Linked DNA regions of Homo sapiens: region 1 is linked to region 2. The links come from fine-mapping of genetic effects on gene expression. A gene starts in region 2. The other region holds a variant in brackets. All regions are shown on one strand. Distances are from middle to middle. Region 1 overlaps KIF3B (kinesin family member 3B). Region 2 holds the start of ASXL1 (ASXL transcriptional regulator 1).

Evidence for each region.
Region 1: its variant is fine-mapped to the expression of ASXL1 in whole blood (INTERVAL, PIP 0.98).

The regions. Positions count from the first base shown.
Region 1 is chr20:32,312,036-32,320,367 of GRCh38, forward strand. It overlaps KIF3B (kinesin family member 3B), which reads left to right. Exons shown (of 9, transcript NM_004798.4): 3 at 4,183-4,284; 4 at 4,492-4,614; 5 at 4,721-4,839. Among named protein-coding and RNA genes, the nearest start is that of KIF3B, 39 kb to the left of the region's middle. The variant G/A (reference allele first, on the strand shown) is at 3,776.
Region 2 is chr20:32,353,850-32,362,181 of GRCh38, forward strand. ASXL1 (ASXL transcriptional regulator 1) reads left to right here and starts at 4,482. Exons shown (of 13, transcript NM_015338.6): 1 at 4,482-4,983. The coding sequence starts at 4,927. RefSeq lists silencers at 1,714-1,783, 4,732-4,781, 5,022-5,181.

The DNA.
Region 1 (8,332 bases), 42 kb before region 2:
CAGGTAATCTGCCTGTCTCAGCCTCCCCAAGTGCTGGGATTACAGACGTGAGCCACCGTGTCCGGCTTTTTTTTTTCTTTCTTTCTTTTTTTTTTTTGAGACAGGATCTTGCTCTGTCAACCCTGGAGTGCAGTGGCCCAATCACTGCAGCCTTGACCTCCTAGGCTCAAAGGATCCTCCCACCTCAGCCTCCCAAGTAGCTAGGACTACAGGCACGCAACTTTGCCTGGCTAAATTTTTTAAATTTTTTGTAGAGACATGGTCTCACTATGTTGTTCAGGCTGGTCTCAAACTCCTGGGCTCGAATGATTCTCCCACCTCCCCCTCCCAAAGTGCTGGGATTACAGGCGTGAGCCACTGCACCCAGCTGATACCTATATCTTTAGTAGCTCCTTGCGTTTCCCTCCCCAACAGATAACCATCATCCTGAATTCGGTGTTTATTGTTTCCTTGCTTTTCCTTATAGTTTTACTTTCTACATGTATATTTCTAAAGAAAACATGGTTTCGTTTTCATATAATTTTTTGCTTTTATGTAAATGGAATCCCACTCATGCCATTTGCTTTTATTTTTGCAACATTACGTTCATGAGATTTATCCATGTTGATGCCTGAAGCTGTGGTTCACTCATTATTACTGTTCCAAGTATTCCATGGTATTCCATTCTCCTGGTGTATGGGTTGTTTCCAGTTTCTGCTGTGAATGCTCTTGTGCTTGGCTTCAGGAGAACATGGACGTGCAAGATTGTCTTGTTTGGCACTGTTAGGTCTTAGGGTATTTGCAGCTTCAACTTCTCTAGACAAGGACAAGTTGTTTTCTAAAGTGGTTGTGCAGATTGAAACACCTCGCAGCAGGGTATCAGTTCTGGATGCCCCGCATCCTTACCAGCACTTGTGATGATCAGACTAACATTTGCATATAGTATAGCCTCTCAGTGCAGTTTCAGTATGCAGTACCCTGATTACACAAGATAAGGAACACTTCCATCACCCCCAAAATGTCCTCATGCTACTTTCTTATAGTCAGCCTCCTCTCCCAACCCCTGTGTGCTAATATATTTCTTTACATCCATTCCATTTTCCACCCAATGGCTAGTTAGCATTCTGGAGTGCTGAGGCTCCCATTGTTTTGAGCCTTCTTTCTGGTGGCAATGCACTATGCCTGCAGTTGCCTGGACTCTGAGCTTCCACTGGGCTTTAATGGCAGAGGAGAGTGCAAAGGTAGACTTGGAAGGCTGAGGATGGCCACTGGCTAACCACAAGGCAGAATTCCTTGGAAATGTTCAGTTCTGTTTTATTGAATTCATGCAAACTTTGATTTCTATCCTAAAATGTCTCCATGTTTATAAATTTTAAAATTACAAGTTATCTTTGCCTCCCTCCTACCCCTACTGTATGAAGCTGTACTGTTTTTTTGTTTGTTTGTTTTAATCAGTGGCTTCATAGTAGCCCTTTCACAGAGCTGGGTGCTATTTTACTTCAGAGGCAGGGTTTTAAAACCTTGAAAGTCCCTTCTAGCACTTTTAAGACCTGATGTGAAAATGGAGTCGTATACAACACAATTAGGAGGTAACTTTGTTCCAGGGAGGGGTTCTGAGATGCCATTATGTCAAAGCACTTCATGCCTTCTCACTGCTGCACAGTAAGCGCGACTGGCTGTGCCCATATTTTGTTTTGTTTTGTTTTGTTTTGAGAAAGGGTCTCACTCTGTCACCCAGGTTGGAGTGCAGTGGCGTGATCTTGGCTCACTGCAGCCTTGACCTCCCAGGCTCAAGCAATCTTCCCACCTCAGCCTTCGAGTATCTGGGACTACAGGTGTGCACTGCCATGCCCAGCTAATTTTGTTGATTTTCTGTAAAGACAAGGTCTCACTATGTTGCCTAGGCTGGTCTTGAACTCCTAGACTCAAGCAATCCTTCCACCTTAGTCTCCCAAAGTGTCAGGATTACAGGCGTGAGCCACCGCACCCTTATGTCCGGCCTGGGTATGCCCATATTTGACTTGCATACTGTCTTTTAGGATCAGATCTGTTATTCAAGGCCAGGAGCACCTAGATTCTCTAAACAACCCCTCAGAGAAAGTTGAACTCTCAGAGGCTGAGTCTGCAAGATTCAGCATCATCTTAAGGTCACTGCATCTCTTAGACATTTTGACTATGGAGAATGACATTATTTCTGTCTTTCTCAATCCCTGGATGCTGTGAAATCATAAAAGAATGTTAGAGGCTGGGCGCGGTGGCTCACGCCTGTAATCCCAACACTTTGGGAGGCCCAGGCAGGTGGATCCCTTGAGGTCAGGAGTTCAAGGCCAGCCTGGCCAACATGGTGAAACCCTGTCTCTACTAAGAATACAAAAATTAGCTGGGTGTGGTGGCATGCACCTGTAGTTCCAGCTACTTGGGAGGCTGAGGCACGAGAATTGCTTGAACCTGGGAGGCAGAGGTTGCAGTGAGCCAAGATCATGCCACTGCACTCCAGCCTGGGCGACAAAGCGAGACTCCATCTAAAAAAAAAAAAAAGAATGTTAGAGTGGTTAGGTATTGTTAGGTATGTATGTGGAGTTTAGCAATCTAGTCCAGCCCCTTCATTCGAGAGGTGAGGAAACAGGCTCAGAGGACTCACTGAAAGATGGCAGCAGAGCTCCAGTGAGGTTTATAAGTTTCTTAAAAGTTGTGCAGTTTTGGGGTCCCATACTTTTTAGGTCAAAATCATTCTCATGGCTTCAGCCCCTATCAAAATGCTGAAGGCTCCCAATCTGTATATCTAGCCTAGCACTGTCTCCTGCCATCCAGGCCCATTGTATGTCTAGCCTAGCACTGTCTCCTGCCATCCAGGCCCAATAACCTTCTGCCCACTGGGATGCTCACAGCCACTCAGAGCCTGCTCTTGCCTTCCTTATCTCAGGGAAGCCAGACCCCTGGGAGTTATCCTTGCCAGCAGCCACTCCCTCTCACTTACAGCCAGGCCGTCCCAAAGCCTTTGGATCCTGCCTCATCAGGGTCTCTTGGACTCATCTACTCTGCCCTCCCCAACTAGGGAGGAGGCCTAGCCCAGGCCTAGACCCCTGCAGTGGCTTCCTGTCATGTCTCCCTCCATCCTGCCAGTCCTTTGCCATGCTTCCCATTGCAGGGGAGTAATGTTTCTAAAACACACATCTGATTGTGTAGCCTCATGCTCAAAAGAATATGTCAGTGGTTCCCCGAACTTCTCAGGATCAAGAAGTTTAGTCTCCTTGACAGGGATTTAGGTCAACTTCATCACTTCCCACCTTCCCCTCACAAAACAATCTTTTTTTCTTACCTAATTCCTATTTTTTAACTTCAGCTGTCTGTGTATCTGGCCCTGCAGACAGAAAGCTTTCTCTGACTCCCTCTAAAAGTCTGAATTCTCTGACTGGGCGCTGTGCTCATGCCTATAATCCCAGCAGTTTGAGAGGCCAAGGCAGAGGATCTCTTGAGGCCAGGAATTCAAGACCAGCCCAGACAACATAGCAAGATTTCACCTCTACAATCAATCAGTCAATCAACCAATCAGCCAAGTGTGGTGGTGTACACCTGTAGTCCCAGCTGCTTGGGAGGCTGAGGTGGGAGGATTGCTTGAACTAAGGAGGTCAAGGCTGCAGTGAGCTGTGATCGTGCCACCGCATTCCAGCTTGGGTGACAGAACTAGACCCTGTCTTTAAAAAATTTTAAAAAATCCCCACAGAGTCTGAATTCTATCCCATCAGTGTGCCTCTCCCATGAATTACTGTGTCCTTTCCTCATGATGGCATCTGGC[G/A]CCATATGGTTAAAGCCTGCTTGCTTGTCTGTTTTCCTCAGTGGACTCGGAGCTTTGTGATTCACACTCACATTGCATCCCCAGGACCTAACATAAAGGGTCTGCTTAATATGTTCTAAGTGGGGTTAATACTTTGTAGAAACAAGCAAAAAAAAAAAATTTGTTAAAGCTGAAATTCATGTATCTGAAGAAACTGTATCTTCAGTGTTACCAAGAAGCCTCTAGTGAAGCTGCCCCAGTCCCTCACCAGTGATGGATGGGCACAGCTGAGCACAGTGTATTTTTTCCCAGAGTTTGTCCCTTTTGGCTCAGTCCTGAGCTCTTTATCTTTCACAGGCTCCCCTGTGAGGAATTATGTTCTGAGAGAAACCGTTCATGAGATGGATTCTACTTTGTTTCTCACTCAGGCCATGGAGAGTAAGTTGCTTGTTGGAGGAAAAAATATAGTAGATCATACGAATGAACAGCAGAAAATCCTGGAGCAGAAACGACAGGAAATTGCAGAGCAGGTAACTTTTCATTCTTTTTCAGGGAGAATGGGTGAGGTAAGGTGTGTTTATGCTGCAGAGCAAACGTCTCATATTAGACTCTCTTCAAAGAGAATGAGAGCAAGGTGTGTCTGCCTCATCCTAGCTGGAGACTCTGATCCTAGCTTGGGGAACCCAGCATAGACACAGTCTCTAGGGCAAGCTGATGAATTTTGTCATGTTGCTCAGAAACGTCGAGAAAGAGAAATCCAGCAACAGATGGAAAGTCGAGATGAGGAGACCTTGGAACTTAAAGAGACATACAGCTCATTGCAGCAAGAGGTGGACATCAAGACCAAAAAACTCAAAAAGGTATGAAAGGAATGAGGCCAGATGGAGTTGCCTTGAGACTTGGGGAAAGGGAGAACTCTACCCTTTGGACAGACACCCTCCTCACCTGCCTCTCCCCTCATTCCAGCTCTTCTCCAAGCTTCAGGCAGTGAAGGCTGAGATCCATGACCTCCAAGAAGAACACATCAAGGAGCGCCAAGAGCTAGAGCAGACTCAGAATGAGCTCACCAGGGAGCTGAAACTCAAGTAAGTGCCAGGCCTTCCATAGTGCCCCCAAGCCACTTGCTGAGTCATTGATCTCGTTTGTTTAGTTAGAAACAGCCCTGGCTGGGCTTGGTGGCCTACGCCTGTAATCCCAGTGTTTTGGGAAGCGGAGGCGGGCAGATCACCTGATGTCAGGAGTTCGAGACCAGCCTGACCAACATGGTGAAACCCCGTCTCTACTAAGAAATACAAAAATTAGCTGGGCGTGGTGGTGCATGCCTGTAGTCCTAGCTACTTGGGAGGCTGAGATAGGAGAATCGCTTGAACCCGGGAAGTGGAGATTGCGGTGAGTTGATATCGTGCCACTGCACTCCAGCCTGGGCGACGGAGTGAGAAAAAAACACAAAAAAAGAAATAGCCCTGAGGACAGGTCCTTCTCCAGCTCATCTCCTGCCACCCCATGTTCTGTTCATTCCTGAAAAAGTCACTTTCCATCTCTGGATCCCATCTGTTAACTGAATGACTTCATCAGGTGATCTCCAAGTTCCCTTCTAACCCTACCTTCTCGAAGCTTTTAAAGATTCTGGTCTTACATCTGTCTGATGATAAGAGGGAATATTTTATTAACTTGACTTTTTATTGTGACAATTTTCTGAATGGTATAATAAATACCCAAGTACCCATCACCCAGATTCAAGGATTAACAAGCTTTTGCCATCTATCTTTCACAAAAATATTTTAAAGCAAATCTTAACCTCATGTTATCTCACTCCTACATACTTATATATATATATATATGATCACAGTGGTTTTTTTTTTTTTTGAGACAGAGTTTTGCTCTATCACCCAGGCTGGAGTGCAGTGGCACAATCACAGTTCACAGCAGCCTGTAACTTGTGGGCTCAAACAGTCCTCCCACCTTAGCCTCCCGGGTAGCTGGAACTACAGGTGTGTGCCACTATGCCCAGCTAATTTTTAAAAAAAATTTTATAGAGATAGAGTCTCTCTATGTTACCTAAGCTGATCTCAAACTCCTAGGCTCAAGCAATCCTCCTGTTTCAGCCTCCCAAAGTGCTGGGATTATAGGTGTGAGCCACCACACCCAGCCCACAATACTGTTTTTAAAAAAGCTTAATTGAGACATACTTCACATACCATACAATTCACATATTTAAAGTGTACAAATCAGTCCGGGCATGGTGGCTCATGCCTGTAATCCCAGCATTTGGGAGGCCGAGGCAGGTGGATCACCTGAGGCCAGGAGTTCAAGACCAGCCTGGCCAACATGGTGAAACCCCGTCTCTACTAAAAATCCAAAAATTAGCTGGGTGTGATGGCGTGTACCTGTAATCCCAGTTACTCAGGAGGCTGAGGCAGGAGAATCTCTTGAACCTGGGAGGCGGAGGTTGCAGTGAGCTGAGATCACACCACTTTACTCAAGCCTGGGTGACACAGCGAGATTCTTGTCTCAAAAAAAAAAAAATTAAAAAATGATAAAGTATACAAATCAGTGTTTTTTTAAAAGCATATATATGCATAGGGCTATAAAACCACCACTACAATCTAATTTTAGAACATTTTTATTACTCTCCTCTAAAAGAAACTCTACCAGTTAGTAGTCACTCCTCATTACCCCCTTTCCCAACCCGAAGTAATCACTAATCTGCTTCCTGTCTCTATGGCTTTGCCTATTCTGGCCATCTCATATAAATGGAATCACACACTGTGTGGCCTTTTTGGCCTGGTGTCTTTTGCTTAGCATGACGCTTTCAAGGATCGTCCATGCCGTAGCATGGATCAACAGATATCTGGTAGTCCCAACATCAATTGTTCTTTATTATGACTGAATAATATTGCACTGTATGAATAGGACACATATTTATTTATTTTTCAGTTTATATACATTCCGATTATTTCTAGTCTTTGGCTATTATGGATAATACTTCTATAAGCATTCATGTATAAGGTTTTGTATGGATGTGTGTTTTCATTTCTCTGGGATACATTCATAGGAGTGGAATTGCTGGGTCATATGGTAACTCAGTGTTTAACTTTTTGAGAGAATGCCAAACTGTTTGCCACAGTGGCTGCACTATTTTACATTTCTACCACCAATTTCTCCACATCTTCTTTTTTTTTTTTTTCTTTGAGACAGTCTCGTTCTGCCACCCAGGCTGGTGTGCAGAGGTGCAGTCTCAGCACACTGCAACCTCCACCTCCTGGGCTCAAGCGATCCTCCCACCTCAACCTCTGGAATAGCTGGGACTATAGCGGCATGCCACCCTACTTGGCTAATTTTTGTGTTTTTTGTAGAGATGGGGTTTCACCATGTTGCCTAGGCTGGTCTCAAACTCCTGGGCTCAAGCAGTCTGCCCGACTTAGCCTCCCAAAGTGCTAGGATTACAAGTGTGAGCCACCATGCCCGGCCTCTCCACATCCTTGTCGACACTTGTTATTTCCTGTCTCTTTTATCATAGACATCCTAACGAGTGTGAAATGGTACTTCATTATAGTTTTGATTTGCATATTTCTCTGATGACTAATGATGTTGAGCATCCTTTCACGGGCTTATTGGCCATTTGTATGTCTTTGGAGAAATATCTATACAAATCCTTTACCCCATTTTAAAATGGGGTTGTTTCATATATATATATATGTATATATTTCGTATATATATGAAATATATATATTTCATACACACACACACACACATATGTGTATATATATAGTTTTTTTTTGTTTTGTTTTTGTTTTTTTTTTTTTTTTTTTTGGAGTTGGAGTCTCGCTCTGTCATCCAGGCTGGAATGCAATGGCGTGAACTTGACTCATTGCAACCTCTGCCTCCTGGGTTCAAGCGATTCTCATGCCTCAGCCTCCCGAATAGCTGGGAATACAGGCACCCGCCACCATGCCCGGCTGATTTTTGTATTTTTAGTAGAGATGGGGTGTCACCATGTTGCCCAGGCTGGTCTTGAACTCCTAACCTCAGGTGATCCACCTGCCTTGGCATCCCAAAGTGCTTGGATTACAGGCATGAGCCACCATGTCCAGCCAATAATTAAGTTTTAAGAGTTTTTTTTGAGACAGAGTCTGGGTCTGTCACCCAGGCTGGAGTGCAATGGCATGATCTTAGCTCACTGCAGCCTCTGCCTCCTGGGTTCAAGTGATTGTCCTGCTTCAGCCTCCCGAGTAGCTGGGACTATAGGCATGTGCCACCATGCCCAGCTAATTTTTGTATTTTTAGTAGAGACGGGGTTTTACCATCTTGGCCAGGCTGGTCTGGAACTCCTGACCTCAGGTGATCCACCCGCCTCAGCCTCCCAAAATGCTAGGATTACAGGCGTGAGCCACTGTGCCCGGCTGAGTTTTAAGAGTTCTTTATATTAATATATTATGAATACCACTTTCTCATGAGATTCATGATTTGAAGATGCTTTCTGTTATTCTGAGTTGTTTTTAAACTTTCTTGATGGTATTACTTATAGCACAAAAGATTTCCGTTGTGATATAGCCCAATTTAATTGTATTTTCTTTT
Region 2 (8,332 bases):
CAGAGTGAGACCTTGTCTCAAAAAAAAAAGACAATCAAAAGTTGCCATAGTCTGATGGTTACCCAGAGGTAACCATTATTGACATTTTGTTGCCAGGCACAGTGGCTCATGCCTGCAATCCCAGCACTTTGGGAGGCTGAGGTGGGAGAATTACTTGAGCCCAGGAGGTCAAGGCTACAATAAGCTGAGATTGCACCATTGCACTCCAGTGTAGGCAACAGAGAGACCCTGTCTCAAACAAACGAAAAAGACATTTTGGTAATTTAAACACGTTTTCCTCCCTACTGGGAGACTGAACAGCAGGATTTAAACGATGGTGAATGGAAGGTGAGCTATGAGTTAGGGCTGCCCATCACATGGGCAGATTCTGTGACTTAATGACAATAATAAGGTCATGAAGTCTCCTATACAGGGTCTTGCTCTGTCACCCAAGCTGGAGTGCAATGGCGCAACCATGGCTCACTGCAGCCTCAAACTCTTGGGCTCAAATGATCCTCCTGCCTCAGCCTCCTGAGTAGCTGGGACTATAGGCACATGCTGCCACGCCCAGCTGAAGTCATGCTCTCTATCCATGAGCATCTTTATAACTTGCATAGATATATTTGGGTGAAATCCTGTCTTGGTCTTTCCCGATTCTCCCTGAGCAGGTTCCAAACATTGTTTAGGGCTCAAAGGGAAATTAGTCTTCAGAGTTTCTCCAGTAAAGTAATTACGGAGATCGGGTCATTTATTCAACAGATTGGGTGCCTACCATGTGCCAAGACTGTGCCAGGCACTGGGGATATGATGATGAAACCAAAGATGCTAGCATGAACACAATCACTAAACCAAAGTCACACAAATAAATTAAATGTGGGAGGGACAAGGAGAGCTATACATGTACTGATCATCTGCTATGCTGGAAGTTTATTTAGCAAATGTAATCTTATTTAATCATCTGGACCCAAGGGAGGTAATCTGACCTCTCTGAATCTCAGCTTCATGTGAAAACGGGGATAATATTATTGAGAGAGAACATTTGTTACAGGGGCAAACCCTGTTCCAAGGTTTCTTTCACTCAAAGTATAAACAATGAGGCACTTTTTACACTTTAGACACTAAAACTTTTTGGAGGCAAAGAGGGCTGGTATTTAGTGAGTATCTGCTATGTGCTAGGCACTTTACAGAGATCTCATTTAATCTCAGTTCCATTCTTTGAATTTGCTATGTACCCTGCTGTCCAAATGACGGCACTGAGTCAGTGAGAGGTTTCATAACTTGCCCAAGGCCACAGAACTGGATGGAGAAAGACTGCAGAGATTCAAACCCAGGCCTGCTGACATGCAGAGCCAATGAGAATATATTATCTTGCAGTGCAGTTTATGGGATATATGTGTCCCTTTGGGAATTCCTGGGTGTCTGCTGGTGGCCTGTTAACTTGGTTCTTGAATATGCACTTTGCTTATAACTGTGCAGTTTGAAAAGTGACTCATCCCCAAACTAGGCAGGGTTGAGTGTCTGTCCTGTTTATCTTCCACATGCCACCTGCACTAACTTCTGAAGATAATCTATAATAAAAGCACTGTGATTAAAAAACAGAAAAACACACACCAAAAATGTATAGGTTTGTCTGTTGGTGCTTCTGACAAGAAAATAAACTCATGAATCTCATTAACTTTAAAAAAATCACATCTACTTAAGGTTTAATGACTAAAGCCAACTTTCTAACATATCTGTACCGTTCTCTGAACATACTGTTTTCACACTTAACTACGATGTTGTCACTTGTTTCTGTCTGATTCTGCAAGGGCAGAGACCTTGAAATATTCAAATCTGGATTCCCCCATGGTTTGACCCAGCTGAAGTCAGGCAGTGTTCGCTGAAAGAAATAAAGGTGTTTCCATAATGCCTGTATTAGCTTTCTTTTGGGGCTGTAAGAAGTTACCACAGATTTAGTGTCATAAAACAATATTCATTTCTGTTTCACGCTTCTTGTGGGCCCGACGTCTGGATTCCATGGCTCAGCTGATTCTCTGCTTCCAGTCTCACGAGGCTGAAATCAAGGTGTCTATATTCCTTTCTAGAGAGTTGGGGAGGGGGTATAATCTGTTCCCAAGTTCATTCAGCTTGTCAGAATTCAGCTCTGTGAGGTTGTAGGACTGAAGTCCCCATTTCCTTGCTGGCTCTTGGCAGGACTTCCTCTGAGCTTTTGGAGGCTGCCTGGATTCCCTGGCTTGTGGCCACTTTCAAAGCCAGTAACAGTGGGTTGAATTCCTCTCATACTTTGAATTTAATTCCTCTGCCTCATCTCTCCAAAACATCTCTTTTGCCTCCCTTTTGTGCTTTTAAGGGTTCATGTGATTACACTGGGCTCACCCATATAATACGGAATCATCTAATTTTAAGGGCTTTATTTCCATTGGCAAAATATCTTTTGCCAAAGAATGCTGGCTGGTAATCCCAGCACTTTGGGAGGCCGAGATGGGTGGATCACCTGAGGTCAGGAGTTCAAGACCAGCCTGGCCAACATGGAGAAACCCAGTCACTACTAAAGATACAAAAATTAGCTGGGCATGGTAGCGCATGCCTGTAATCTCAGCTACTTGGGAGGCTGAGGCAGGAGGATCGCATGAACCCAGGAGGCGGAGGTTGCAGTTAGCCAAGATCACGCCACTGCACTCCAGCCTGGGTAACACAGCGAGACTCTGTCTCAAAAAATAAATAAATAAATAAATAAAAAAGCAACATATTCACAGGTTCCAGGGACTAGGACTTGGACAGTTTTGGGCAAGCGGGGAAGACATTATTCTGTCTACCACAGTACCTGTATTAAACATGTAAATTTCAGTTATTCCCTGTAGGTCAGAGGGCAGTAAAGCTACTTCAGAAGACATCGGAAAGAAGCCAAATGACTTGCCAAAGAGTACTGTATCAGCCGTAGATTGAAAAAAAAGAAGTTAAAAATCCTTTGTAAAAAATCAAGGCAAACAGTTTTTTGAGGGACAGTAGTTCCTCCTTTCTCTCAGGGTAAAGCTAGAGAGATTTTTAAGAGGTGTCTTATTCTAACTTGCAGTCTTTTCCCTTTGTAGGATTTTGCTTACCGGACTCACAAGTTTTCTGTGACCAGTATTAGAAGCAGAAAACACTGAACCCCTTGGCGTTAGAGTTTGGGCTACACCATAATGGTCTCCTATCAATACTGGCTCTCGCTACGTGTTAACATTAGGGAGTGGAGAGTGTGTTTCCTCACCCAGGGAAACCGTTTAAATGTGGCCACTGATCCTGCCTTCATAGTTTTTAAGAGCTGGCATCAATCCAACTCCGGACGGACTCTAGAAATGTTTCTGGACAACGACTGAACCTATAGTTACAGAAAACCTATGTGCTGGGCGCTCTGAATTTCATTTCAGGTTCTAAAACTAAGGCTCAGAGAGGCTAAGTATATTGCCTATTGTTTCTCAGCTGGTAATAACAGCTACCATTTATTAAACATTTGCTCTATGCCAGGCGCCATATCATACGGACCTGATAATGTCAAGATCTCCCTTCACATCCTCTTCCAATCTGTCAAGAATTGTATGTTAATTTTAATTCCAATAATGCCATGAAATACAAGACAAATGCAGATCAGAAAACTGAGGCTCAGAGAGGTTGAGTGGACAGCCAGGGAGTGACTCAGCCAAGATTCCAGTCTAGGTCCGCTGGACTCCAGGGCCTGAATTCTCTCCAGGGTACTGCCTCTAAAAACGCCCTCAGGTGCATTCTGGTCAGTATGGCCCCAGAGTCCAAGTTCTTTACACGACCCGTCAACATATCACCAAGTTCCTAAGAACGCTCTAGGCTGCTGGTGCAGGCTCTGCAAATACACAGCGGCCTGAAAGCACAGGAAGAAATGAAGAACCGTCTAAGTCCATCAGCCGTGGAATAACCGTTTTACTGGTATGAGGGTCTTTTTGTCTCATTATTATGTGGCAGTGAGTCATTTAGAGGTGACCAAAAGGGAAAGTCCTGCCTCTCGTCCCCTACGAGAAGTGTAGGTAAGAACCGTTTAGGCGAGGAGAAGCACGAAGTGGGAACTGCGAGTCGAGCTCCCCATCCTCACTCCCCACCCGCACCCGCCAGGAGGTCCTGAAGCAAAAAGCACCGAAGGGGTTAAGGGTGGCCGGGGGAGCCCAGCCACCGCCCCTTCCCAGCATCGCCTCCCAGAATCCCGCAGGCCCCCAGCCAGTTCTCGCACCTCGCGAGACTCCACCCAGCCCCTTCCCCGAACAGCGACCCGTCCCCGTTCCTAGCTGAGGTCGGTGCTAGGCGGAGGACGCGAGAGGGAGAGCGGAAGGGGGCCGCCGGGCACGCCGGGAAGTGTGGTCCACGCGCTTCACGCGGCCATATTCTTCCGGAGCGGGGGAGGCCAGAGAGGCCGTTGGGACTACGACTCCCAGGCGCCCTTTCGGTTTGTTTTTGTTCAAAAAAAAAAAACCCCACACTCCCCCTCCTCACTCTTCACACACACTCACACACACCCACGGCAGACACGCACGCACCCGGGCGCCGAAGGGAAAGCCGCGTCTCGCCCTCCCGCCCCGCCGTCGGTCCTGTCTCAGTCCCTCAGCAGAGCGGGAAAGCGGAGGCCGGAGCCGTGACCTCTGACCCCGTGGTTATGCGGAGCCGCCGCATTCCTTAGCGATCGCGGGGCAGCCGCCGCTGCCGCCGTGGGCGACTGACGCAGCGCGGGCGCGTGGAGCCGCCGCCGCCCCTCCCCCACCGCCGCTCTCGCGCCAGCCGGTCCCCGCGTGCCCGCCCCTTCTCCCCGGCCGCACCCGAGACCTCGCGCGCCGCCGCTGCCACGCGCCCCCCCCACCGCCGCCGCCGCCCCAGCCCCGCGCCACCGCCCCAGCCCGCCCAGCCCGGAGGTCCCGCGTGGAGCTGCCGCCGCCGCCGGGGAGAAGGATGAAGGACAAACAGAAGAAGAAGAAGGAGCGCACGTGGGCCGAGGCCGCGCGCCTGGTGAGGCGGACAGCCGAGGGGGGCTCCGTGGGGCCCGGGGTGGGGGGGGCTCGCCGCGCACCCCCCCACTGGGGGGGGAGGGGCAAGGCCCTGCCCACCGCGGGAGGGGGCGGGGCCATCTTCCTTTAAGAACGGGACAGCCCCGCAAGGCGAGGGGTGGGGAGCGCTCCGCCGGGATGGGATGTGGCGCCTTTTTCCGCTCGCCCTCGCGCCCCCCCCGCCCCGCGCAGCTAAATTCCGGCGGAGGGGCGAGCTGGCAGGCCGGCTCCTCCCACTCTGGGCAGCGGGGTCCCGCGTCCCCTCCCCCACTATTTGGCAGCGTCTGGGGGTCTGGGGCAGCTTCGTTCATTCACCCGGGGGAGTTGGGTTTCCGGGAAGGGTCGGAAGCTCCTCCCTCGCTTCCTGGTGGGTAATGGGGTGGTGCCTTTGACTCCGGGGGTGGAAAAGCGACCCCACATTCAAGGACGCCAATGGCATGTTGAGCTTTCCCAATCTAAACCAGGTGCGTGGAGGGAAGCAAGTGCTTACTCCCAGCTTGAACCCTGAGCAGCGGTTCTCTAACTTTAGTGTCCTGTGGGCGACACCTGGGAGGCGGTTAGGAACGCTACTCCTAGGGCCCTTCGTAAGACCTGCTGAGCCTCAGGGTCTGGGATAGAGCCTGGGAATCTGCGCTTTCACCAGCTTCCCAGGTGATTCAAACGCAGTGGCTCACGGACCCCACTTTGAGAAACGCAGACTGGGCTGTTTGCCTTCAGAAGCTGGACTGGAAATTGGTATTTTGAGGAGAACTGAATCCACTTTGCAAAGAATGTATGTTGGACAAAGACAAAGTATCTCTGTTGGGAGACGTTGTTCACTGAGGATTTAGCAAGGGAGAGCGTAACTTGAGTGTTTGAAGCCGTCTCGTTCAACCGATGGGGGTTGTGAATTTTGTGTTCAGAGCGTCAGAGGACTTGCAGGTGAAATAGCTTCCTTTTGGATTACTCCCACAAAGCTCAGACACTTTGAGACATATTCGGGTAATTATCTGCTGATACCAGTAGTAACAGGTTATACTAAGATGTCAGTTCCTAAGATCTGTCACACAGCGAGGTTGTGGTGCGGATAGCATAAGTGTCTCTTGACACTGTAGTTTATATGTAATGGTTGTAATTCAGTTTTAATGATGAGTGAAGCTCAGACTTAATTTTCTCTCTTATTTTGAAGTGAGTTTTCTGCTTCAAAGGTGTTGTGCAAAAAAAAAAAAAATAGACTGTATTGGGGGGGTTGACACAAACCTGAAGTACACCTTTTTCTTTCTCGAAGTCTGTAAAAGTTACAGATTTATAAAAACTGAAGGAATTTGGGCTACAGAATTTTCATTGGTGCTTGCTATCCTCTTCCCTAGTCATTTGTTGCCCAGGGAACAAAAATAGCAATTGTTTGTATGCTGAAGTTTTGTGCTTCAGTTTATTTTGGCCTGGCATGTGAAGTTTGAAGATTTTGAGGTTCCGAAATATTTTTTTTCTGATTGAGTCAAAATTGGAAGCTTGGGCTAGTTTTCAGGATCTTGTAGAAATTTCAGGATTTCTCTAACGGTTCTGCACCTGGAAACAAATATAGGCCTGATGGGGAGTGGGAGAGAGCTCTCGTTCTCCTCCTCGACAATGAGTTTTGTGTGTTCATTGACATTCTCCTTGGCGTTCCTGTTATGCGGGTGTTTATGACCCTGGGCACCCAAGGAAATTTGCTTGCCAGAGTTTTACTTGTTAGAGGTAGGTGAAAGTACTTTTAAGTCTTGTGTTATTTATGTCTTGACAGAATTATGAAATCTGTTTGTCTCAAAGTTCTGTTGGCTCTTACTAGTTGACTTTAGGAATTTGGGGTCCACTGTTAAGTCTCTTTAGATTCTCGAATTTACCGTGGTCTGAACTTCAACATCGAGGTTGCTATTTCTGTTTTATCATTGACTCAACTTCAAGCCAGGTTATCAGGGTAAGTTATTCCTCTTTTTCTTCTAAGGCTCTTCATTAAAAATAGTAATATGAATAGGAATTACTTTGTTTGTTTGTTTTTCGTTTGTTTGCCACCACACCCGGCTAATTTTTTATTTTTAGTAAAGATGGGGTTTTTCCATGCTGGTCAGGCTGGTCTCGAACTCGTGACCTTAGGTTATCCGCCCACCTTGGCCTCCCAAAGTGCTGGGATTACAGGCGTGAGCCACCGCGCCCAGCCTATGAGTAGGAATTACTTTGTGGTGCTGTTATACATGTGAAAAAGGATTTGCGAGACTTTGGGAGTCTGAGGTGGAATAATCACTTGAGGCTAGGAATTCGAGATGAGCCTGGGCAACATAGACCCGGTCTCTACAACAACAGCAACAAAATGAGCTGGGCATGGTGGTACACACCTGTGGTCCTAGCTACTCAGGAGGCTGAGGATAGCTTAGGCCGAGGAGTTGGAGGCTGCAGTGCCCAATGATTGATTGTACCACTGCACTCCAGCCTGGGTGATAGAGGGAGACCCTGACTCTAAAAAAATAATGAGGCTGGGCGCTGTGGCTCACGCCTGTAATCCCAGCACTTTGGGACGCCGAGGTGGGTGGATCACAGGGTCAGGAGTTCTAGACCAGCTTGGCCAACAAGGTAAAACCCAGTCTCTACTAAAAATACAAAAATTAGCCGGGTGTGGTGGTGCACGCCTGTAATCCCAGCTACTGAGGGGGCTGAGACAGGAGAATCACTTGAACTTGGGAGGTGGAGGTTGCAGAGAGCCAAGGCCATGCCACTGTCCAGCCTGGGTGACAGAGCAAGACTCGTCTCAAAAAAAAAAAAAAAAGAAAAAAAGAAAAAGGACTTGTTGAGAATGTGATATGCAATTTGAGTATCTTGTGTGTGTTTTTTGTTTTAGAATTTTCCATTTCTTTGAATGGGACTGGATGGTAGGTGAGGGGGAACTTTTTAAGAGTCCCAGGCCGGGCACGGTGGCTCACGCCTGTAATCCCAGCTCTTTGGGAGGCCGAGGCAGACGGATCACCTGAGGCCAGAAGTTCGAGACCAGCCTGGCCAACATGGTGAAACCCCGTCTCTACTAAAAATACAAAAATTAGCCAGGCATGGTGATGGTGCATGCCTGTAACCTCAGCTACTCGGGAGGCTGAGGCAGGAGAATCACTTGAACTCGGGAGGTGGAGGTTGCAGTGAACCCAGATCACACCACTGCACTCCAGCGGCGACAGTGAGACTCTGTCTCAAAAACAAAACAAAAGAAAAAACCAGTCCTCTTAATGTTTAAAAAAAGTTGCTGTAACACTGTACTGGAGAATTTGTGAGAGCGTACACTGGACTGAGAGAAACTTGACTAGGAGGGA